4 linked regions of the Homo sapiens genome follow. The protein of the gene in region 3 binds, or shares a complex with, the protein of the main gene of each other region. Links are inferred from orthologs where the notes say so. Each region holds a gene or a part of one and is shown on either strand. Other genes may lie near its edges. The genes, in order: GINS1, MCM3, GINS3 and GINS2. A codon is read from its position in the direction of its gene.

What was found.
Region 1: the proteins of GINS3 (region 3) and GINS1 are in contact, whole or in part, in a cryo-EM structure (PDB 8Q6O), measured with the Xenopus laevis proteins. The link is inferred for Homo sapiens from one-to-one orthologs. Residues at the interface, in NP_001080618.1 of Xenopus laevis: Trp2, Pro4, Tyr5, Met6, Pro7, Val8, Glu16, Asn17, Phe18, Leu19, Ser20, Leu21, Glu22, Asp23, Leu24, Leu25, Ser27, Gln28, Ser37, Phe39, Pro40, Arg41, Leu42, Phe44, Leu45, Pro63, Trp65, Leu66, Gly69, Leu70; in NP_001085502.1 of Xenopus laevis: Met1, Phe2, Cys3, Glu4, Ile7, Ile10, Arg11, Leu13, Gln14, Ser17, Asp18, Gly19, Gln20, Leu21, Glu49, Arg55, Asp57, Leu58, Pro60, Thr61, Lys63, Phe64, Arg65, Cys67, Cys68, Arg71, Arg74, Cys75, Val77, Ala78.
Region 2: GINS3 (region 3) and MCM3 share a complex: the UniProt entries of both Homo sapiens proteins name them as parts of the CMG helicase complex.
Region 4: the proteins of GINS3 (region 3) and GINS2 are in contact, whole or in part, in a crystal structure (PDB 2E9X), measured with the Homo sapiens proteins. Residues at the interface, in NP_073607.2 of Homo sapiens: Leu13, Gly14, Tyr117 (codon at 848), Ser121 (codon at 860), Leu124 (codon at 869), Asn131 (codon at 890), Ala132 (codon at 893), Ser135 (codon at 902), Gln136 (codon at 905), Leu138 (codon at 911), Leu139 (codon at 914), Gln140 (codon at 917), Phe142 (codon at 2,090), Ile143 (codon at 2,093), Phe146 (codon at 2,102), Arg147 (codon at 2,105), Ile149 (codon at 2,111), Met150 (codon at 2,114), Asp151 (codon at 2,117), Ser153 (codon at 2,123), Gln154 (codon at 2,126), Ala156 (codon at 2,132), Met171 (codon at 2,177), Gly174 (codon at 2,186), Leu175 (codon at 2,189), Thr178 (codon at 2,198), Gly179 (codon at 2,201), Gly182 (codon at 2,210), Leu183 (codon at 2,213), Asp185 (codon at 2,219); in NP_057179.1 of Homo sapiens: Asp2, Ala3, Ala4, Glu7, Met93, Glu94, Lys97, Asn101, Trp121 (codon at 344), Ile125 (codon at 356), Arg129 (codon at 368), Val130 (codon at 371), Ala132 (codon at 377), Asp133 (codon at 380), Val136 (codon at 389), Arg137 (codon at 392), Gln139 (codon at 398), Met151 (codon at 636), Thr155 (codon at 648), Ser156 (codon at 651), Thr158 (codon at 657), Phe159 (codon at 660), Leu160 (codon at 663), Gln162 (codon at 669), Ala163 (codon at 672), His166 (codon at 681), Met167 (codon at 684), Lys169 (codon at 690), Leu170 (codon at 693), Arg171 (codon at 696).

The regions. Positions count from the first base shown.
Region 1 is NC_000020.11:25,424,671-25,431,728, forward strand, and holds part of GINS1 (DNA replication complex GINS protein PSF1), read left to right. Parts: intron 1-540; coding exon 541-657; intron 658-7,058. UniProt on the Homo sapiens protein: Required for correct functioning of the GINS complex, a complex that plays an essential role in the initiation of DNA replication, and progression of DNA replication forks.
Region 2 is NC_000006.12:52,281,685-52,288,754, reverse strand, and holds the start of MCM3 (DNA replication licensing factor MCM3), read left to right. Parts: upstream 1-4,012; 5' UTR 4,013-4,080; coding exon 4,081-4,158; intron 4,159-5,348; coding exon 5,349-5,461; intron 5,462-5,893; coding exon 5,894-6,102; intron 6,103-6,579; coding exon 6,580-6,710; intron 6,711-7,070. UniProt on the Homo sapiens protein: Acts as a component of the MCM2-7 complex (MCM complex) which is the replicative helicase essential for 'once per cell cycle' DNA replication initiation and elongation in eukaryotic cells.
Region 3 is NC_000016.10:58,402,413-58,406,647, forward strand, and holds the end of GINS3 (DNA replication complex GINS protein PSF3), read left to right. Parts: intron 1-685; coding exon 686-919; intron 920-2,086; coding exon 2,087-2,317; 3' UTR 2,318-3,735; downstream 3,736-4,235. UniProt on the Homo sapiens protein: Required for correct functioning of the GINS complex, a complex that plays an essential role in the initiation of DNA replication, and progression of DNA replication forks.
Region 4 is NC_000016.10:85,675,698-85,678,954, reverse strand, and holds the end of GINS2 (DNA replication complex GINS protein PSF2), read left to right. Parts: intron 1-288; coding exon 289-415; intron 416-617; coding exon 618-743; 3' UTR 744-2,757; downstream 2,758-3,257. UniProt on the Homo sapiens protein: Required for correct functioning of the GINS complex, a complex that plays an essential role in the initiation of DNA replication, and progression of DNA replication forks.

The sequences.
Region 1 (7,058 bases), on a different chromosome or scaffold from region 3:
TCTGTCTCTATAGATTTACCTATTACAGGTTTTTCATATGAGTAGAATCATGCAATATGTGGCCTTCTGTCTTTCATGTGGTAATGGCAATACGTTTCAGAACTTCATTGTTACTTATGGTTAAATAATGTTCCATCATATGGGCACATATCCATTCATCAGCTGGTGGACATTTGGGTTTTCTTAACAATGTTTTATAGTTTTCAGAAATAGCATCAATGCAGAGTTTGAAGATATAATTCTGAAATGGCGTCTTTTTCATGGTTCTGTTTCTGGTCAAAGATTCCTAAGGTTTATTATTAAGTATGCTGAAATGTAAGCTCTCTGAGAACAGAGATTTTTGTTCACTTTATTGAATGATTCATTGTAAGTACCCAGACCAATGCCTATATCATAGGAGGCAATTAATATTTTAGCATTAATGAATGAATGGTCACAACAGTGATTTGTGTTGGGATGTGTACTGTTTTCGAATGGATGATATTCAGTGTGTGCAAGTTTTCTTAGAATTTTGTCAAATGATCATCTCTATGTTTGCAGATGGAGTGGTTTAATAATTATAAAAGATCTCTTGCTACTTATATGAGGTCACTGGGAGGAGATGAAGGTTTGGACATTACACAGGATATGAAACCACCAAAAAGCCTATATATTGAAGTATGTATATCTTTTTAAAATGCATTTTTCTTTAATGTGTAAATTGTGCTACCTTTTAAGAAGAGAGGAGTATATGAATATGTGTTAGCTTCTATTAAAATAGAAAAGAAGCATAGACCAAATCAAACAAGCTACCTGTAGGGGGATGACAGAATACGATGGAACAGCTATAATTTTCTGAATATACCTGTTTTAATAGTTTTGAGTATGGAACCCTATAAATGTTTTAGCTATTACTAAAACAAAGTTAAATCAAAATGGAAAATCAGTCCCTAAATTTTGAAAGTAAAATGAAACAAATGTCAAAACAAAGTTAAATCAAAATGGAAAATCAGTCCCTAAATTTTGAAAGTAAAATGAAACAAATGTCAAAACAAAGTTAAATCAAAATGGAAAATCAATGCTAAATTTTGAAAGTAAAAAAAGCAAATGTCTTTCAAGTTGGTGGATTAGTCAAAACAAGAGGTATTTTTGTTTCATTTTGTTTATTTTTTCTATTTTTTAAATAATAAAATACATATAAAATCTACCATCTTAGCTATTTTTAAATGTACATTTAAGTGGTATTAAATATTGTTTAACATTCCATATTGTTTTGCAACTTTCATATTGTTTTGCAGCTGTCACCACCATTCCATATCCAGATTTTTTTCATCTTATAAAACTGAAACTCTACCCATTAAACAATAACTTCTCAATACCCCTGCCTCCCATCCCCCAGCAACCACCATTCTACTGTCTGTCTCTGATTTTGACTACTGTAACTACCTCATGTGAGTGGAATCATATAGTATTTGTCTTTTTGTTTTCTTTTGTTCTCGTTAGAGAATAATTTCTGAGAAGCTACAAATGACAAGTTATTTGTCTTTTTGTGACTGGCTTATTTCACTTAGCGTAATATCTTCAGGGTTCATTTCTGTGGTATCTGTGGTAAGAATTTGTGTCAGAATTTCCGGCTGGGCACGGTGGCTCATGCTTGTAATCCTAGCGCTTTGGGAGGCTGAGGAAGGAGGATCACCTGAGGTCGGGAGTTCAAGACTAGCCTGACCAACATGGAGAAACCCCGTCTCTACTAAAAATACAAAATTAGCCGGGCACATGCCTGTAATCCCAGCTACTTGGGAGGCTGAGGCAGGATAATCGCTAGAACCGGGGAGAAGGAGGTTGCGGTGAGCTGAGATTGCACCATTGCACAATTTTTTTTTTCTTTTTTTTGAGATGGAGTTTCACTCTTGTTGCCCAGGCTGGAGTCTAGTGGTGCGATCTTGGCTCACCGCAACCTCCGCCTCCTGGGTTCAAGTGATTCTCTGGCCTCAGCCTCCCAAACAGCTGGGATTACAGGCATGTGCCACCACCCCTGGCTAATTTTGTATCTTTAGTAGAGACTGGGTTTCTCCATGTTGGTCAGGCTGGTCTCGAACTCCCGAGCTCAGGTGATCCTCCCTCCTCGGCCTCCCAAAGTGCTGCGATTACAGGTGTGAGCCACTGCGCCTGGCCCAGAATTTCCTTCCTTTTTAAGGATGAGTAATATTCCTTTTTCTGGCTATACCACATTTTGCTTATCCATTTATCCATCTATGGACACTGGGTTGCTTCTTTATTTTAGCTATCATTTTATGATCAATGCTGCTATGAACGTGGATATATAAATCTCTTTGAGACTCTGCTTTTAATTTTGGGGGGCATATATCCAGAGTGGAATTACTAGATCATATGGTAATACTATGTTTGAGGAATTGTCATACTGCTTTCCACAGCAGCCATACCATTTTACATTCCAACATTACGCAAGGGTTCCATTTTCTCCACATCCTCACCAACACTAAATATTTTGGGGTTATTTTGTTTCGTTTTTGAGACAGAGTTTTGCTCTTGTCACCCAGGCTGGATGCAGTGGCGCGATCTCGGCTCAACCTGCAACCTCCACCTCCCAGGTTCACCTCAACTGCAACCTCCACCTCCCAGGTTCAAGTGATTCTCCTGCCTCAGCCTCCCAAGTAGCTGGGATTACAGGTGCCCACCACCACACCTGGCTAATTTTTGTATTTTTAGTAGAGACACGGTTTCACCATTTTGGCCAGGCTGGTCTTGAACTCCTGACCTCAGGTGATCCTCCCGCCTCAGCCTCCCAAAGGCATGAGTCACCATGCCTGGCCTTGTTCTGTTTTTTAATCATAGCCATCCTAAAGGATGTAAAACGTGGTTTTGACTTTTATTTCCCTAATGATTAGTGATGTTGAGCATCTTTTCATATGCTTATTAGCTATTCCTGTGTCTTCTTTGGAGAAATGTTTATTCAAATAATTGGCCCCCTTTATGGGGCCCATTTTCAAATAGGGTTTTGTTGTTGTGGAGATTTAGAAATCCTTTATGTATTCAGTATGTTAATTTGTTATCAGATATATGATTTGCAAATATTTTCTCCCATTCTCTGGGTTGCCTTTTTATGCTGTTGATAGTGTCTTTTTTTTTCTTTTTTTTCTGTTTTCTTCCTTCAGTATCATGTTGATATTTTAAAATTTTCATGCAGCCCAGTTCGTCATTTTTTTTTTTTTTTTTTTGAGATGGAATTTTGCTCTTGTTGCCCAGGCTAGAATGCAGTGGTGTGATCTCGGCTCACTGCAACCCCTGCTTCCTGGGTTCAAGCGATTCTCCTGCCTCAGCCTCCTGAGTAGCTGGGATTACAGGCATGCACCACCACACCCAGCTAATTTTTTGTATTGTTAGCAGAGATAGGGTTTCATCATGTTGGCCAGGCTGGTCTTGAAATCCTGACTTCAGGTGATCCACCCACCTTGGCCTCCCAAAGTGCAGGGATTACAGGCGTGAGCCATCGCACCCGGCCAATTTTTTTTGTTTTGTTGGTTGTGCCTTAGGAGTCATATCCCAGAAATCATTGCTAAATACAATGTCATAAAACTTTTGACCTGTATTTCCTTCTAAGTATTATGTTGTTTTACATTTGCATTTCGGTCTTTGATCCATTTCAAGTTAATTTTTGTATGGTGTTAGGTGATGGTCCAACTTTATTTTTTTGCATGTGGAAATCTAGCTTTCCAAGCATAATTTCTTTTTTTTTTTTTTTTTTTTTTTTGAGACAGAGTCTCTGTCTGTCGCCCAGGCTGGAGTGCAGTGGCACAATCTCGGCTCACTGCAAGCTCTGCCTCCTGGGTTCACGCCATTCTCCTGCCTCAGCCTCCCGAGTAGCTGGGACCACAGGTGCCCACCACGACGCCCAGCTAATTTTTTGTATTTTTTAGTAGAGACGGGGTTTCACCGTGTTAGCCAGGATGGTCTGGATCTCCTAACCTTGTGATCCGCCCACCTCGGCCTCCCAAAGTGCTGGGATTACAGGTGTGAGCCACCGCACCCGGCCTCCAAGCATAATTTCTTAATAAGACTGCCCTTTCCCCATTGTGAATGGTTTTGACACTCTTGTCAAAAATCATTTGACTATGTAGGCAAGGGTTTATTTTTTATCTCTTTATCCTATTCCATTGTTCTGTACATCTGTCGTAAAAAAAGTTTTTTTAATATATATATACATCTGTCTTTATGCCAGAACTGTAGTATTTCGATTGTTGTAGCTTTGCAGTAAGTTTAAATTAGGGATTTTGGGTCCTCCACCTTCATTCCTCTCTCTTTTTTTTTTTTTTTTTTTTTTTTTTTTTTTTTTTTTGAAACGAAGTCTTGCTCTGTCGCCCAGGCTGGAGTACAGTGGTGCACTCTTGGCTCACTGCAACCTCCACCTCCTGGGTTCAAGTGATTCTCCTTTCTCAGCCTCCCAAGTAGCTGAGACTAAAGGCGCCTACCACCATGCCCGGCTAATTTTTTATAGTTTTAGTAGAGATGGGGTTTCACCATGTTGGCTAGGCTGGTCTCGAACTCCTGACCTCAGGTGATCCGCCCACCTCAGCCTCCCAGAGTGCCGGATTACAGGCATGAGCCACCACGCCCGGCCCCATTCCTCTTTTTAAAGGTTGTTTTCACTATTTGAGATTTTATATGGATTGTGGGATGGGTTTTTCTGTTTCTCCAAAAGACACTTTTGGGATTATAGTAGGGATTGTGTAGGTCACTTAGGGTGCATTGACATCTTAATATTAAATCTTCCAATCCATGAACATGGGATGTGTTTCCAATTGTTGATGTCATCTTTAATTTTCTTCAGCAGTGTTTTTTAGTTTTCATTGTTCAAATCTTTCTCCTCTTTCGTTAATTTAATTTCTATATATTTTATTCTTTTCGCACTGATAAACTGAATTATTTTCATAATTTTTATTTTCAGATTGTTCGTTGTTAGTGTATAGAAATGCAACTGATTTTTGTGTGTTGACTTTGCATCCTGTTACTGTGCTGAATTCATTTATTAGTTCTAAAAGTTTTTTGTGGAATCATTAAAATTTTCTACATGTAAGATCATATCATCTGCAAACAGATAATTTTAGTTTTTCCTTTTTAATTTAGAATCCTATTTCTTTTTCTTGTCTAATTACTCTGACTGTAACTCCAGTTTTATGTTGAATAGAAGTGGCAAAAGCAGAAATCTTTTGCCTTCTTAGTGAACTTAGAGGAAAAGCTTTCAGTCTTTCTTTTTCTTTTTGAGACAGAGTCTTGCTCTGTTGCCCAGGTTGGAGTGCAGTGGCACAATCTCAGCTCACTTCAACGTCCGCCTCCTAGGTTCAAGCGATTCTCCTGCCACAGCCTCCTAAGTAGCTAGGACTACAGGCACATGCCATCACGCCCAGCTAATTTTTGTATTTTTATTAGAGACAGGGTTTTACCATAGAGGCCAGGCTGGTTTTGAACTCCTGACCTCATCATCCACCCGCCTTGGCCTCCCAAAGTGCTGGGATTATAGGCGTGAGCCACCGTGCCTGGCCAGCTTTCAGTCTTTCACCATTGAATATGATGTTTGCTGTAGAGTTTCCATATATGGCTTTTATTATGTTGATGTATAGTTATCTTCTGTTCCTAGTTTGTTGAGTATTTTTATGAAAGGAAGTTGAATTTTGTCAAACGCTTTTTCTGTATCAATTGAAATGATCATGTTTTTTTCCCTTCGTTCTGTTAATGACTTATATTGATTGATTTTCATATCTTGAACTGTCCTTGCATTCCAAAAATAAATCTCAATTGATTTATGATGAACTCTTTTACTATGCTGCTGAATTTGATTTGATACTATTGTGGTGATAATTTTTTTAATTTTTATTTTTCAAGACGGAGTTTTGGTCTGGTTGCCCAGGCTGGAGTGCAATGGCACGATCTTGACTCACCGCAACCTCTGCCTCCTGGGTTCAAGCGATTCTCCTGCCTCAGCCTCCCAAGTAGCTGCGATTACAGGCATGTGCCACCACACCCGGCTAATTTTGTGTTTTTAGTAGAGATGGGGTTTCTCCATGTTGGTCAGGCTGGTCTCGAACTCCCGACCTCAGGTGATCCTCCCGCCTTGGCCTCCCAAAGTGCTGGGATTACAGGCGTGAGCCACCATGCCTGGCCTGTGTTGAGAATTTTTGCATCAGTGTTCATAAGGGACATTGGTCTATAGTTTTCTTGGAGTATCTTTTCTGGCTTTGGTATTAGGGTAATGCTGGCCTCATAAAATGAGTTAGGGAGGTGTTCCCTCCTTTTATATTTTTTAGAAAAGTTTGAGAAGGATTGGTGTTCTTGAAATGTTTGATAGAGTTACCCAGTGAAGCCATCAGCTCTAGGGTTTTCTTTATTGAGAGATTTTTGATTAGTGATTGAGTCCCCTTACTAGCTATAGGTCTATTCCAATTTACTAGTTCTTAATCATTCAGTCTTTGTAGGTTTGTGTTTCTGGGAATTTGTCCATTTCATCTAGGTTTTCCAATTTGTTGGTGTACAATTGTTCATAGGACTCTTAGAACTCTTTTTATTTCTGTAGGATTGGTAGTAATGTCCTCACTTTCATTTTTGATTTTAGTAATTTGAGCCTTCTTTTATTCTTAGTCTGTCTAGCTAAAGGTTTGTAAATTTTGTTGACCTTTTAAAATAACCAAATTTTAGTTTTATTGGTTTTCTCTATGAGTGTTTCTGTTCTTCATTTTATTAATGTCTGCTCTAATCATTATTTCCTCCTTCTAGCTTTAGGTTTAGCTTGCTTTTCTTTTTCTGGTTCCTTAAGATGTAAAGTTAGGTGGTTGGCTTGAAATTTGTCTTCTTTCGTTTTTGTTTTTGTTTCTTTTTTCTTTTTCTTTTTCTTTTTCCTTTTTTCTTTTTTCTTTTTTTTTTTTTGAGACAGGATCTCACTCTGTTACCCAGGCTGTAGTGCAGTGTCACAATCTCAGCTCACTTCATCCTCCGCCTCCAGGGTTCAAGTGATTCCCATGCCTCAGCCTCCCGAGTAGCTGGGACTGTAGGGGTGCGCCACCACG
Region 2 (7,070 bases), on a different chromosome or scaffold from region 3:
AGAGGTGGCAGTGAGCCGAGATTGCACACTGCACTCCAGTCTGGGCGACAGAGCGAGACTTCGTCAAAAAAAAAAAAAAAAGAATGGGGGCTGGGCATGGTGGCTCACGCCAAGGTGGTAGGATCACTTGAGGCCAGGAGTTTAAGACCATTCTGGGCAGCATAGTGAACCTATCTCTCAGAAAGAAAAAGAATGGGGATGACTTCTTACGGACTAAGAAATCAGATTACTGAAATTAACCTTGGCAAATACCAATGAATCACTAATTGTTGGCAAGCCAACTGTGTTGTTATATTTAATGGGAAAATCATGATCACTGATGTTCTCTGTCTGGCTCCTGGATTTTCCGGCTCTTTTTAGCATATCTAACCGGAAGGACTCCAGGAAGCAACAGAAGAGTGCAAAAGGGAGACAAGAAAGGTGATCAGACTCGTTTATTTATTTATTTTTTGAGACAGAGTTTCACTTTTGTCACCCAGGCTGGAGTGCAATGGCGTGATCTTGGCTTATTGCAACCTCCGCCTCCTGGGTTCAAGCGATTATCCTGCCTCAGTCTTCCAAGTAGCTGGGATTATAGGTGCCGGCCACCATGCCTAGCTAATTTTTTTGTATTTTTGGTAGAGACGGGGTTTCACTATGTTGGCCAGGCTGGTCTTGAACTCCTGACCTCAGGTGATCCACTTGCCTCGGCCTCACAAATTGCTAGGATTACTGGTGTGAGCCACTGTGCCGGCTGACCAGACTCTTTTAAAAGAGTTTTATAAAGGAGTCCATTTAGTATTCCATAATGTTCTTTGAGCATGGAGTAAATGCATCTGATGGCTTCCAACACTGTCGGAATCCGAGCCAAACAACACCCTGCCTATGTTATTTTTTTTAGCCAATTGGACTTCCAGCAGAAAAAGGTCCCACTCAAGGAAGTGTCTGGGTTGGTTGTATTGTAAGTTTTTTGGTGGAAGTGGGAAGGGGGTTTGAATTTGGTTGTCTGAATTGTTTCAGAATGCACTACAGTGCTTCCTCCCCTTCTCCTATCCCTTGACTCCTCTCCAACTACCATTCACCACCACTACCAATGGTTAACATTTATTTAATGCTTACTACATACCAGGCACTTTTTTCAGTAGTTTACATCTGTTATGACTTCACTGGATACTTAAACATTTGAGTTAGATACTACTAACCTAATTTGAAAGGTGAAGAAACTGAGGCACAGAGTGGTTAAGTAAGTTGCCTAGTCGTGCAGGTAATATACAGAGCAGCCAGAAAGAGTAACCAAATCTGCCTGTCTTGGTGCTTGAAACTCTAGATGCTACAGCATCTGAAGATTCTGACTTCACACTGCAGAACTGTGAGGTTAGGGCAAGCCTGTGCCTACAGATTATTCCTTGAGCTGCTGTGACACCTGGAGGCATAGATTTGCTCACCTCCAAGCTTTGGTGGCCTTTGAGTAAATGTCAAAGGACTGCTAATGAATTATGGCACTTTCCTGAGTGCCTAAACAAGTTATTAATTACAGGGTATTATTTGAAATGTTTTGCAACATATAATGTTCATTAGTTTGAACAAAGGTATATATAATTTCTTGTAATAATATTTATTATGGATTTGTATTGTGTCTTTGGGTATTTTTTGGACCCTGAGGACATAGAAAAATGGCAGTATTACATCTATTTTGCAATCTCTTTGCAATCTTGTTTTCTTTCCATTCTCTTCCTGTATACTCTGCTCTCCAGGGAGCCCCCTAGCGTTTAGGCAGCCTTGGAGATGGGCTTGAGTCCATTAAAGTCTAGGGTGGAAAGAAAATTGAAATGGAGGAAAGCAGGAATGTGACCCAAGTATGGAAACTGTAGATACACTACTTTATTAGATTATATGTGCTTTTTAATTTTGAATCAGGATAGAGGAGGACTACGGGCTAAGCTCAGCTGGACTTTTTATGAGATATGTACAAATGCCCCTAATTTTTCTGTAGCAACAACCTGATTGATTTTGGGCAGTTTGCAGGTGTCGGGGATAACAAAGGAAATACATTTCCTCTGCTTAAAGATTTCATGCCCTAATGAAAGAAGGGAGAAACACCAATTAAATAGCGGTGTGTCCTTCACAGCTGAAGATGATTATATTGGGACAAATCAAGTCTTTATCAAAGACCATGGCATGATTAATTCATTAAATAGAATTGTCTTTACATAGTTTCCAAATTTGCCATTAGCTCATGGAATGTTAGAGTAAGACAGATTATCAGAGATATTCTAATTCAGTTTCTTCATCTTATACTGTATATAAGGAAACAAGCCCAGAAAAAAGTGTGAGAATCAAAGATGTGGTTTTCAGATTTCCACTCTTTTGGACTTTCTACTACAAATGACTCGACTTCTTTGCTAGTTTGAACTAAGCTTCCCGGTTCTTTTAGTGTTAATTTCAAATTGTTTCCAGAGCAGAGGATATCTCAGTACTCTGTCCAATAAGTTCATAAAATAAGAGTTATGAGTAAAAAGTCTTAATAAATCAGTAATTACCTCTTGCTATATAACGGCAAACAGTATCTTTATTCTAGAATTTTCTTTTTTTTTTGCCCGTTAATAAACATAAAAGCAAGCAGTCAAATGACAGCCTTTTTGCTTTGGCTAAGGATCGATTTATCTGCCCACTAGGATGGCACAAAACATACAGTAACTATAAACTGAATAATAACTAGAAATACATATACCCACACAAATAGATGGCCTATATATTTTGTTTAGGCAGATTATTCTTAGAATATTTATCAGTACATAGTGAGTCCTGAAGACTTTAAAACATAAGCTAATAGTTGGCTGAAATTTCAGATAAAGAATTATCAAATGTCTGATGTTGGGCAATCCAGTATTTCAGCTTCTTGTTCAGTAAAATTAAAAACACATGCTGGGGCAATGGGCTTGCTCTTTATTGTGCAGAGTGGTTACATGGGTGTAAGCACAGGTAAAAATTCACTGAGCTGTACACTTAAGATTTGTGCATTTTACTGTATATACATTATATCTCAAAATAAAACTAGAAATATAAGAAAAAGCCAACCACGACGGACTGAAAACAAACATACAAATTTGGACGTGCGATGATCTTTTAGTCATTATGGTTTCAGATTTGCTGTTAGTTACTGATTGATATTTAATCAAAGTGACGTGAAACACTTTTTCCCCTCTTGAGCTGATCGTTCAGTAAGCTAAGTTACTTAAAAGGATCTTGTGATCTTTTTATAAGACCAGAAAGCCTTTAATTTACCTGTTATTAAGTAAGATGGAGTAGTAACGGTTTCCAAAATTTGTATAACACACGATGAAGTCTCTAGGGGGCAGGGTAAACACAGATTTTTTTTTTCACTTCATCCTTCTCTGCGGCGATGTCTTTATGGAGTTCGTCAGGCAACGGTATCAGATAGCAAATGGGTTTTTAACTAATCTTTCCCTAAGGTACTGTAGTTCTATATTCTATCCTATAGATTCTCAAAATCCACTTTTACACTAGGATGCCACTGGAGGGCAGTTCTGATTTGGATATATCTTAAAAATGATTTGCTTTTATGTTTTCATCTCCCTGCGTTATAAAGCACCATCCTCTGAATTTGGTCGTTGCATCGGGTCAAAAGTTCTGCAGCTTGAAAAACCCTGCAAAAACATCCGGAAAGGAGGGAGAACACTACAACTCCCAGAACGCAATGCTTTCCCTCTCGCCAGCCTGTCCCCTCCAGCTGCTCAATGACCAGCCTCTGTGAGCCTCCTCTCAGCCCTATTGGTCAGTTTGCTCGTCAGTGAGTGAGGCGGAGGGAGGGGAGGAACAGAGAATCCCGGATGGTACGTTTCCCGCCACCGCGGGGCGCGCAGCGGAAAACCCGAAGAAGAAGAAGCTTTTGATTGGACAGTCGCTAGTCCGACCTCAGAGAACTCAGCCAATCATAATGCTTATATGCTCCCAAGGTCCCCGCCTCTTCCTCGAGGTAACCTTTGGTGGCGGGAAGAGTTCGGAAGTTTTCGCGCCGGGGTGGAGTCATCCTGGGAACCTCCACGCGACTTTGGTGGAGGTAGTTCTTTGGCAGCGGGCATGGCGGGTACCGTGGTGCTGGACGATGTGGAGCTGCGGGAGGCTCAGAGAGATTACCTGGACTTCCTGGACGACGAGGTGAGGGAGGCGCCGGCGCGCGGGCTCTAGCGCTCGGAGCCCCTGCGGACGCGGCCCGGCCGGGAAGCCAGAGGCCCGCCAGACCTCCAGACCGTGTGCCGCAGCGGAGCCTGCCGGGCCCGAGCCTCCAGCCCCAATCTTGTAACTTCTCAACGCCGGACTCGCTAGTTTGTGTTCGATAAGTGAACTCTTAGGAAGCCAGCTTTCTCTTAAGTACAAGCGATGGTCCGGGCGCGCAAAAGGCGACAGGTTCCCATTAAGTGCAAGCAGATTGGCAAAGCCCACCTCGGCCTTTTGCATTTCACTGCTCTCTCTTGATTTGAGGAGACTGTGGGGGAGGGGCTGCCCTAGGGCTATAGTGACCAGCCGCGTTGCAGAGTGCTCAGATTTTAGGGACTGACGTTTTACCTGGAGGAAAAGACTCCATAATTCGGCTGCATTCTTTTTCAATACCAACTAAGATGCAGATAAAAAGTGTTTTGTGTGCAGGCCAAGGGGATTTTATGTGCAACCCAAGACTTAAAGCCATAGAATGTTGAAAAAACCATCTTGAAGGGTTGATGATGTGACCAAATAGCTGAGATTCTCTATTCCTTTAGGTCGGGGTATGAGAACCCTTTCCGTATTATAGAGATGATTGGAAAAAATATTACTTTTTACATAATTCTTAAATGAAAAGCCATTTTAATGTGACTATTAAGAGTCTGTTTTATTTACATTTTTATTGTATATATTTGAAGTGCACATGTTTTGATATACATGGTGAAATGATTACTACAGTGAAACAACATATCCATCTATTCACGTTGTTACCTTTAACATTCACATTGCTAGGTTTAACTTAACATTTTAACAAAGTTTGCACTTACTGTCCATTTAGACTTCTCATGAGCTCATTTTAATTCTCCACTAAAGACAGAAATTACAGCATGCAGAAAAGTTGTCCATGATGATGGGAATAACAGCATGGACCTTGAGGAAGTCATTATAATTCTTATAGTCCCCTCTTAGGGTGTTATTTCGAATCTAAAAACAGTGAATGAAAGGGAGAAATTGATGAGCACATACTTACTGGGGATTCAGCTCTGCTGCAGAGATTGACTTAGCTATCTGGCTATGAGAACTACTTCTGTTTAGAAACATTGTTTTTAAATTTGTGGCTATGGTGATATGTGGTGGCTGTTTTGCAGGAAGACCAGGGAATTTATCAGAGCAAAGTTCGGGAGCTGATCAGTGACAACCAATACCGGCTGATTGTCAATGTGAATGACCTGCGCAGGAAAAACGAGAAGAGGGCTAACCGGTGAGAGGCAAGGGGATATACTGGCTGTCAGTGAGAATGGCTCCCTTCCCTCTTGGCCAGATTGGAACAGCCTCTCAGGAGAGGACTTGTATGAAACAGGATTGATCTACAAGCCCTCGTAGCTCACCTGCACCTATTTTTTTTTTTTTTTTTTTCAAAAAGTGGGTGGTTGGCATTTTCCTCCCAAATGCCCCTCCTTCCAATGTTTAGCTGAATATCATTTTTATATCTTTGATAAGTTGAGGTGAAGTTGGTCCTTAGTTCTGGTATTTTACTGAGTCTTATAGGATGGTGTTTTACTGAGACTTATAGGAGAAAGCAGAAGCTGGATTTTCTCATTGTTTTTAATGATCTAAGAATGTCTGCTGTTTTGAGGATCCATTTTTTTGAGTTCTGCCCAGTCTAATTTTTCTTTCTCTTGCTTATGTACAGGCTTCTGAACAATGCCTTTGAGGAGCTGGTTGCCTTCCAGCGGGCCTTAAAGGATTTTGTGGCCTCCATTGATGCTACCTATGCCAAGCAGTATGAGGAGTTCTACGTAGGACTGGAAGGCAGCTTTGGCTCCAAGCACGTCTCCCCGCGGACTCTTACCTCCTGCTTCCTCAGCTGTGTGGTCTGTGTGGAGGGCATTGTCACTAAATGTAAGTGGGTTAAAGGGGGCCGCTTAGGAAATGAATAGACAGGGAGATGGGGAAAGCAGGAGAGGCAAAGTAGATCTGGGTAGCTTGTGGCTTCAAAGAGGTGGAGCATTGGAATTACGTGGTAAAACTTGGAGGGCTCAGTGTGTACAATGATTGGGGGACCTTGAGTAATCACATGTATTAGTAGAATGATGAATTCTGCTGAGAGCTGGAGGAGTCTTGGTTCCTGGCAATCTCTAATTCCAACCTCTAACTCCACCTATTTATTAGTTGGGATTGGTGGTACTTAAAATTTTACATGGATATGGTGGTGGTCTATATATAAATAAAAAAGTGAATAAAAGGTAATATTGAAATATCGTAACCTAGTCAAAAAAACACAGTATTTGGAGTCATTATAGGCTTGCATATGTTTGGGTTCCACCTGTATCATCGTCTAGTTGGGTGAGTTTATATATGCACATTTTCCATCCCTAGGTTCTCTAGTTCGTCCCAAAGTCGTCCGCAGTGTCCACTACTGTCCTGCTACTAAGAAGACCATAGAGCGACGTTATTCTGATCTCACCACCCTGGTGGCCTTTCCCTCCAGCTCTGTCTATCCTACCAAGGTAAGGGGGATAAATCAGTTGAGCTGTCTTGGAGGTTGGAATCAAAGATACCTGTTTTAAGGCAAGGAATTGTGTAATATCTGAAGTCTTTTTTCTGTAAAGGGTGAAAAATAAGGATTAATCCAAAGGAAAGATTGATTGCAGGCCAGAGTTTAATATGAAAAGCCCACAATTCTTATTTATTTATTTATTTATTTTTAAAGATGAGGTTCTCCTATGTTGCCTAAGTTGGAGTGCAGTGGGTATTTGCAGGTGCAGTCATGGTGCACTAAATTTGCAAACTCCGGGGCTCAAGTGATCCTCCCAAGTAGTTGGGATTGCAGGCATGTGCTACGCCACCTGGCTTCACAATTCTTATTT
Region 3 (4,235 bases):
CTGCTTCCACACCCACAAAGCTGCTCCCATCTTTTTGCAACAGTTCTCCCTTGTGAGAGTTTTGGCTCTTACTGCTTCATTCAATCCAGTTGTTTGCCTTTGATTTTTTTGGAGATTTATGACTCTTAATTTCTGGTCTGTCATGACCACCTCATCTTGTTTTCTAATTCTATTGAGGCTTTAAAAACTAGAGACATGTGTGCTGTCATCTCTGAAGCTGTGAAGTGGGATGGAAAGGGGCTGCCACTCAAGCTCAGGTTGATCTTATTTTTCTTTCTGACCCCTAGCATCCAATAGGGTGCTCAGTACATAGCAGGCACTCGGCAAGTGGATATTTAGAATAAATATTGAATATTCAAAGAAAAAGGAAATGTTTACTATAGCTCTGAAGTGTCTACAATTGGACAATTTTTATGTGTTAGTTAGAAAACTCTCACTTATGCTACATTTTTGTTCACCATGTTTTTGTTGTATAAATCCATTTTCTCTCTCCATTCCATCATCACATAAAACTTCAGCCCACACACTTCATTGCTTCGAGTCACGACCAGGTCTTCTGTGCTTGACAGCCACTCCCCCAAAGAGAAAAGGCAGTATTGCGCAGGCGATGTGTATTTCCTTTTCGTCACACACATTTGCTGTGTTACTTGTCTGTTTTTAAAATCTACATTCATGCATGCTGCAGGGTTCCAAGCTTGAACTACCCTTGTGGCTGGCAAAAGGACTTTTTGACAACAAGCGACGGATCCTTTCTGTGGAACTCCCCAAGATCTACCAAGAGGGTTGGAGGACTGTGTTCAGTGCAGATCCCAATGTGGTGGACCTCCACAAAATGGGGCCCCATTTCTACGGGTTTGGCTCCCAGCTCCTGCATTTTGACAGTCCCGAGAATGCAGACATTTCCCAGTCTCTGCTGCAGGCAAGTAATGGGTGTGAAAACCTGTGGTGCTGCACTTGTCTCAAGAGCCAGCCACAGATACTACTTTTACCCAGGACAGTGTATGACTTGTAAATTTAGTCTGTTTTTATTCCAGGTCAGCCTACAGTTACACTGTCTGTCCATTTTATATATTTACATATATACACACACACACACACACACACACACATTTTTTTAATATGACTTGTCTGCCACTCCTCATATTTGCTTGCTACAAGTTGAGGCCAGCAGGAACTCTAGGAAATGAGAAAAGGGTGATGATGGCCAGGCATGGTGGCTCACACCTGTAATCCCAGCACTTTGGGAGGCCAAGGCAGGAGGATCGCTGAGCCCAGGAGTTCAAGACCAACCTGGGCAACATAGTGAGATCCCATCTCTATTAAAAAGAAAAAAGAGAAAAAAAGGGCTATGGTGCATTACAGGTGACAGGCACTTAGATACACAGTCCCAGGCCTGGCCTAAGGGTTCCTGTTGGAAATACAAGAGTTATTGGGTTGTTTCCTTCCTTTGTTCTGGGGTTAGGGCTTGGCCCTGCCATGAACTAGCAATATGACTTGGTCAAGCTACTTGACCTCTCTAGACATCAATTCACCTGTAAGAATTGATGGAGATGATAATAGTGCCAAAATTATAGAGTTGTGGTAAAACTATGTAATGCCGTGTAATAAACAATAACTCATATTGTTATTACTTTTCCAGGACAAAACAATGTTATACATCTGTTCCCAACCTTTATGGTATAACCTTATTTTAATTTTTCATAATTACTTTTTTATTCTGTTACTGTTAGAAGAAACCATCATTTCTTCCTCTTGGGACAGAAGCATTTGCTACTAATGACAATAATAGGTGATGCTTCTCAAGGAGCTTGCTGTGTGCTAGCCATTTGCTAGGTGCATTACATGTATTCATTGGTTTTCTTAACAACTTACTGGATTTTCATAACAATCCACTTCACAGATGAGGAAATTGAGGCATGGCAATGTGCAATAACTTACTTGGGTGCTAGAGGGAATTCAGACCTCCTTCTGAGTCCTACACATCATTCTTTCTTTTCATGCCATTTAAATGTTCTGAGATAAAAATGGATATGACTTTGTGGGGTGTGAGGTCAACCCTGACTTGTCTTACTCCCTTGTTTCCCAGACTTTTATCGGACGTTTTCGCCGCATCATGGACTCCTCACAGAATGCTTACAACGAAGACACTTCAGCCCTGGTAGCCAGGCTAGACGAGATGGAGAGGGGCTTATTTCAAACAGGGCAGAAAGGACTGAATGACTTTCAGTGTTGGGAGAAGGGGCAGGCTTCTCAGATCACAGCTTCCAACCTCGTTCAGAATTACAAGAAGAGAAAATTCACTGATATGGAAGACTGAAAGCCGGAAGAACACAGAATGGCTCCTCACAGACGTATCCCTCCGTGTGTCCTTGATAGGAGCTGGTTGACCTTGTACAGAACCAGAATCCTGTCCCATTTCATGGCTTATTTCCTGTGGCCATAGAGAATTATAGGGAACTGGACATGCTGGAGGATGTGGGTGTCCCTGGCTCTGTGAGTCTTCCAGGACCGTCCCACCCTGCTGACCCACAGCCCAGGCCCTTTAACCCAAGAACCCATGGCCAAGGAGAAATCAAAGTCCTTCCTAAATAAGAATCACTGCCATATAATATATCACAGTAGAGTTGCAACTGAGATTCCTTGTGTCTGGGAGTTTGGACAGCTTCAGATGTACAGTTTCACTAGCCACAAAGCACAGGTACAAACTGGGTCATCGCCTGTTCACAAAATGCTCTCTTGATCTTATTTGCCTCATCTTCCTCATGGTTGTACAGAGGATAGCACCCCACCATGCCAGCCTGACTTGGAGATATCTCCTGCTGCCTGCCTGCAGGGAGTTACCCCAGTTTCCAAAAACAGTCGCCCAGATAAAGGAGGAAAAGGGAAAGGCAGACGAATGGCATGGCTTTTACTAAAGAAAAGATGTTGGCCTCATACTCTATACTCAGGGCTTAATGAACTGGAATCTGCATAACTCAGCAGTCAACCCAGAAGGGAAATGGTTAAACTGAGCTTGTTATTGCCTCGGAGAGCCTAAGAGCACCCGCACACTTAATTCTACTCCCTGTCTAGAAAAGCTGTCAGGGAGTCGTTTGGAATTGCAATGTAGTTATTAAGGGCTGTTAACCAGCCTGCATTACATCTGGAAGTCAGGACTTGGGTGCTGACTATGAAGGGCCCTGTTTTCAAAATCTAACATTGCAAGTGTAAATGGGCAAGAAGCCTCCGTTGTGCTTTTTTTTTCCTCTTCAGTAACTTTTGCAACATTATTGCATAGAAGATCCCTGACCATTTACTAGGAACCTGGTTAAGCAAGCACTAATCTCTTTTCCTGGAGATCAAGGATGCAACCTCAGGTTGAGAAAGAAACAGGGTTCCCTGGGCCCATTAGACTGTTTGCAGGGCATCACTGCTTCCCCCTGACACCTCACAACTAGCAAAAATTGTCTTTGTCTTTGGAAATTATAGAGGGATTTGGGTATCCAGATTGTGCAGATGCAAACTTAGGCTGTCTTGATGCAAACTTAGAACCACAGAAATGCTTTTAAAATGCCTGTTTTAAGATGGAATTGTTGTTTTTATAATTTGATTTTAGTGCTAAATAAATGATTGGCTTTGTACATGAATATGTTCTGTACAAGTGCTCTTTCACTAGTACTACAGATAATCAAAGCTATCAGAATTGTGTCTTTGATCATATTTGACGGTAATACACAAATCCATGTTTTAGCAGCTGCTCTTTTGCTTGTGTGGTACACATAAATAGGAGGTACATTCTCTGTAGGAGGGTGCTGTGTCCTAGGAAGATGAGATTTCCATTACTACCGCAGCATTTATATATAGCCAGGGCCCGAGAAACCATTCATAGAGCGAGAAAAGCATATTATTTAACTTTTGGCATCATTCTTTTCACACATAGCTTTATATTTAAAGTCAACTCTAAGTCTGCTGCCATTTTTTCCTACTTCCTAAAAAAAAGAAATTCCTCAGGGGCCATGTGTCAGGAATATGTAGGTATTCATGTCCAAAACTTAGCCCCTATTTTACATTTTGAACAGATTATATTACATGTAGCTTTTGAACTCATTTTCAATTACAGATCTGCCTTCAAGCCTGTCGGACTTCCCCTCTCCCCAGCAGCCCTCCAGTTAGTCGTTTAGATTTTGATTTGGTCCCTTCAAGAGGTTAATTTTTCAAAAAACACAACAAATGGGCTCAAATACCAAATTGCTATC
Region 4 (3,257 bases), about 27 Mb from region 3:
GGCTTCTGACTTAGAGCTGATTCTCTACTAATTTTCTTAGGTAAACAGCAGTCCTGTTCAGCAGCCTGCCATGGGATAGTTAATGTGAGCAAAAGAAACTCCATGTGGATCACTGCCGCACCAAGCTTAACTGCTACAAATCTTTACACCCTAAAGTTGAAAATAAAGCAAAACAGACTTTCTGAGTCTGGAATAGCCACGGTATTTTGCCTGAAAAGAGCCACTCTATCCAGCATTGCCTCAGGTTATCAAGTGTTCCCCGACTGACTTTAGCCCTTGCTCCTTTAGTGCTTCAGACAACATCCCGAAGGCAGACGAAATCCGGACCCTGGTCAAGGATATGTGGGACACTCGTATAGCCAAACTCCGAGTGTCTGCTGACAGCTTTGTGAGACAGCAGGAGGCACATGCCAAGGTAGGTGCCGCCTTGCCTGGGTGCTGGTGGCCTTGATGCCGCATAATTTCACATGGCTCCCGTCTGCTGAGGCTATTACAGGCAGGCATTACTAGCTGTGCTTTTCAACAGTTCATTGGTTTCTTATTTTTATTCAGTAGAGTTTACCTTTTTCTCAAAATCAAAAACTCCTTGGCCAACTTGGTCTGTTTTCTTGCTTTAGCTGGATAACTTGACCTTGATGGAGATCAACACCAGCGGGACTTTCCTCACACAAGCGCTCAACCACATGTACAAACTCCGCACGAACCTCCAGCCTCTGGAGAGTACTCAGTCTCAGGACTTCTAGAGAAAGGCCTGGTGCAGGCGGCTTGCTGGGGGATGTGAGCGCTCAGGACGTGATGAGGTACTCGTGGTTCTGGAGCTCTAGAAACACTTCTGATGCATGAAAAATGTGTGATGGTGCAAGGAATGGATTCAGGATGTTGTTGGAGAAACAAGTTTGTGATTAGTCCTTAAAACTTAGCTCCCTGGGACATTCTTCAATTCCACATCTGTTTCTAGAAACCAGCCCTTTTTCCCCCCACTTTTGAGAAATAAAAAAGCCTTAGGTAAATAAGTCATTCTCCCTAGCAGAGCCACTTGGGTCTCCTGCATGGAAGCCATCACACTTGGGCAGGTGTTCAGTGACTGGTAGGTGTAGATACAGCAGGAGTGGCCATGTGGTCCACGGCTTTTTACCCCTTCTTGATCCTGATTTCTTGGGCTGAATTTAGACTCTCTCACAGAGGTGGCTCACAGAGAAGGATGGCAGATGGTGCAGCCAACAATGCTGACCGGTGCTTATCCTCTAAGCCCTGATCCACAATAAAAATGGACCCAACTCAGCTCTGACTCTCTAGGTTTTTGTGCTGCGTAACTACCAAGTAAAAGGACTGAGCCTGTGGCTGAGATGACTCAGTCAACGAAACTGAGGCACACGGCAGTTAAGTGGAAACTGCAGACCAACACCTGGGGTGTCTCCTTCTCTTGGCTACTTCTAGCTCAGGTTTAATGGGTTGCTTATCAAGAGGAGAGTCAGGAAAAAAACGAATCCAATGTATTGAGCATGAGTGACAATGTATTGAGCATGAGTGACAATGCTAGAAGAAAAGTCACTTTCAGTGCTGCTCTTGATGGATTTGGGGAAGGATTCTTTGTTGTAGGTAACAGTGGGCTCAGGGGAAATTATTTTTTTCCTAAGAGAAAATTACTTTATTCGTAGCATTTTGGAAATGTTAGGACCTTTACAGAAATTACATTACCTTGAGAGGTGAAATGATCGTCCAGCATCATGCAATGGATAGAAGGTTCTGTAATCAGCTTTAAAAAAAACTTTAATTTTTGGCCGGGCACATTGGCTTGGCTCATGCATGTAATCCCAGCACTTTGGGAGGCCAAGGCAGGTGGATCACAAGGCCAGGAGATTGAGACTATCCTGGCTAACATGGTGAAACCCCGTCTCTATTAAAAATACAAAAAAAAAAAAATTTGCCAGGTGTGGTGGCACACGCCTATAGTCGCAGCTACTCGGGAGGCTGAGGCAGGAGAATCGCTTGAACCCGAGAGGCGGAGGTTGTAGTGAGCCAAGATTGCACCACTGTACTCCTGCCTGGGCAACGAGAGCAAGACTCTGTCTCAAACAAAAAAAATTTTAACTTTTTTTTTAGACAGGGTCTCGTTCTGTCATCCAGGCTGCAGTAGAGTGGCGTGATTATAGCTCACTGCAGCCTCGAACTCCTGGGTTCACACAGTTCTCCCACCACAGCCTCCCAAAGCACTGGGATTGCAAGCATGAGCCGCCATGCCTGGCCAGCCTATTTTTGGCTGGACACCAGTGGGCCAAAAGCAGTGGGGTGCTGTCTGGGGAGCTCTGAGAATGCGCATGTGTGACAGGCTGAGCCTAAAGACTTATCACCCAGCATCTGCCCTCCAGTGTCTAGCATGCTGCACACTATCACTCCATGTTGCTGCCCACGTGTCCCCGCCAGGCAGGTTTTGGTGGTTATTTGGACACTGAAGGGTCAGACCTGGAAGACTGGGACCAAAAGATGAGGTCTCCATAATTTAAGGTGCTGTTCAGACTTGGTTCAGCTCATAGGACTTGTTCTTTCATCTCAGCCTTCCTTGGAATCCTCCTGCTTTCATCTGGGGATCTTTTAGAATGAAACCACTTGTTATTGTGGAGGGCAAGGGGTCCTAATGCCCTCCTCTTAGAGCCTGAGCCAGTGGAGGCAGCTCCGTCTGCGGAGATGTATAGTTATTGAGCTTTTCTTTGTTTGGCTTTGTTTTATATCATAAAAAAGATTTTCCTCTTAACATAATTTAGGAAGATTTTATTTTTTGGATGTTGTCAGAAATTACAGCAATATATTCATAAATACCTAATTACTACATTCAACAAATAATATTACAATACAATTAATTCAAACAAGTACACTTAGAACAGGTTTAATTTCACAGCATCTAAACTGCCCCCAGAGTGACCGAGGCACCGGTGTTCCTCCCTCCCACCTGCGTATGGGGTTTACTGTTATAGAATTAAGCACAGGGTACATACAAAATAACACCAGTTAGCATGGTCTTCCTCAGGTCAAGGCAGAGTTAAGGAGTTTTTTAGGTTAAGCACTGGATGGAAAAGTTGGGGACAGGCTACTGCAAGTAGTAAGAAAGTCAACAGCTTGGTTACTTGAAAGAATATAGAGATTGCTAAGTGGCTAATATACACTTTAAAGAGGAACAGAATCGGTTTGTGCTGACCATCTCCATCTTGTGGTGGATCCCTGGCATTTTCTACACTTGTGTGAAACATGTGGCTCAGGGA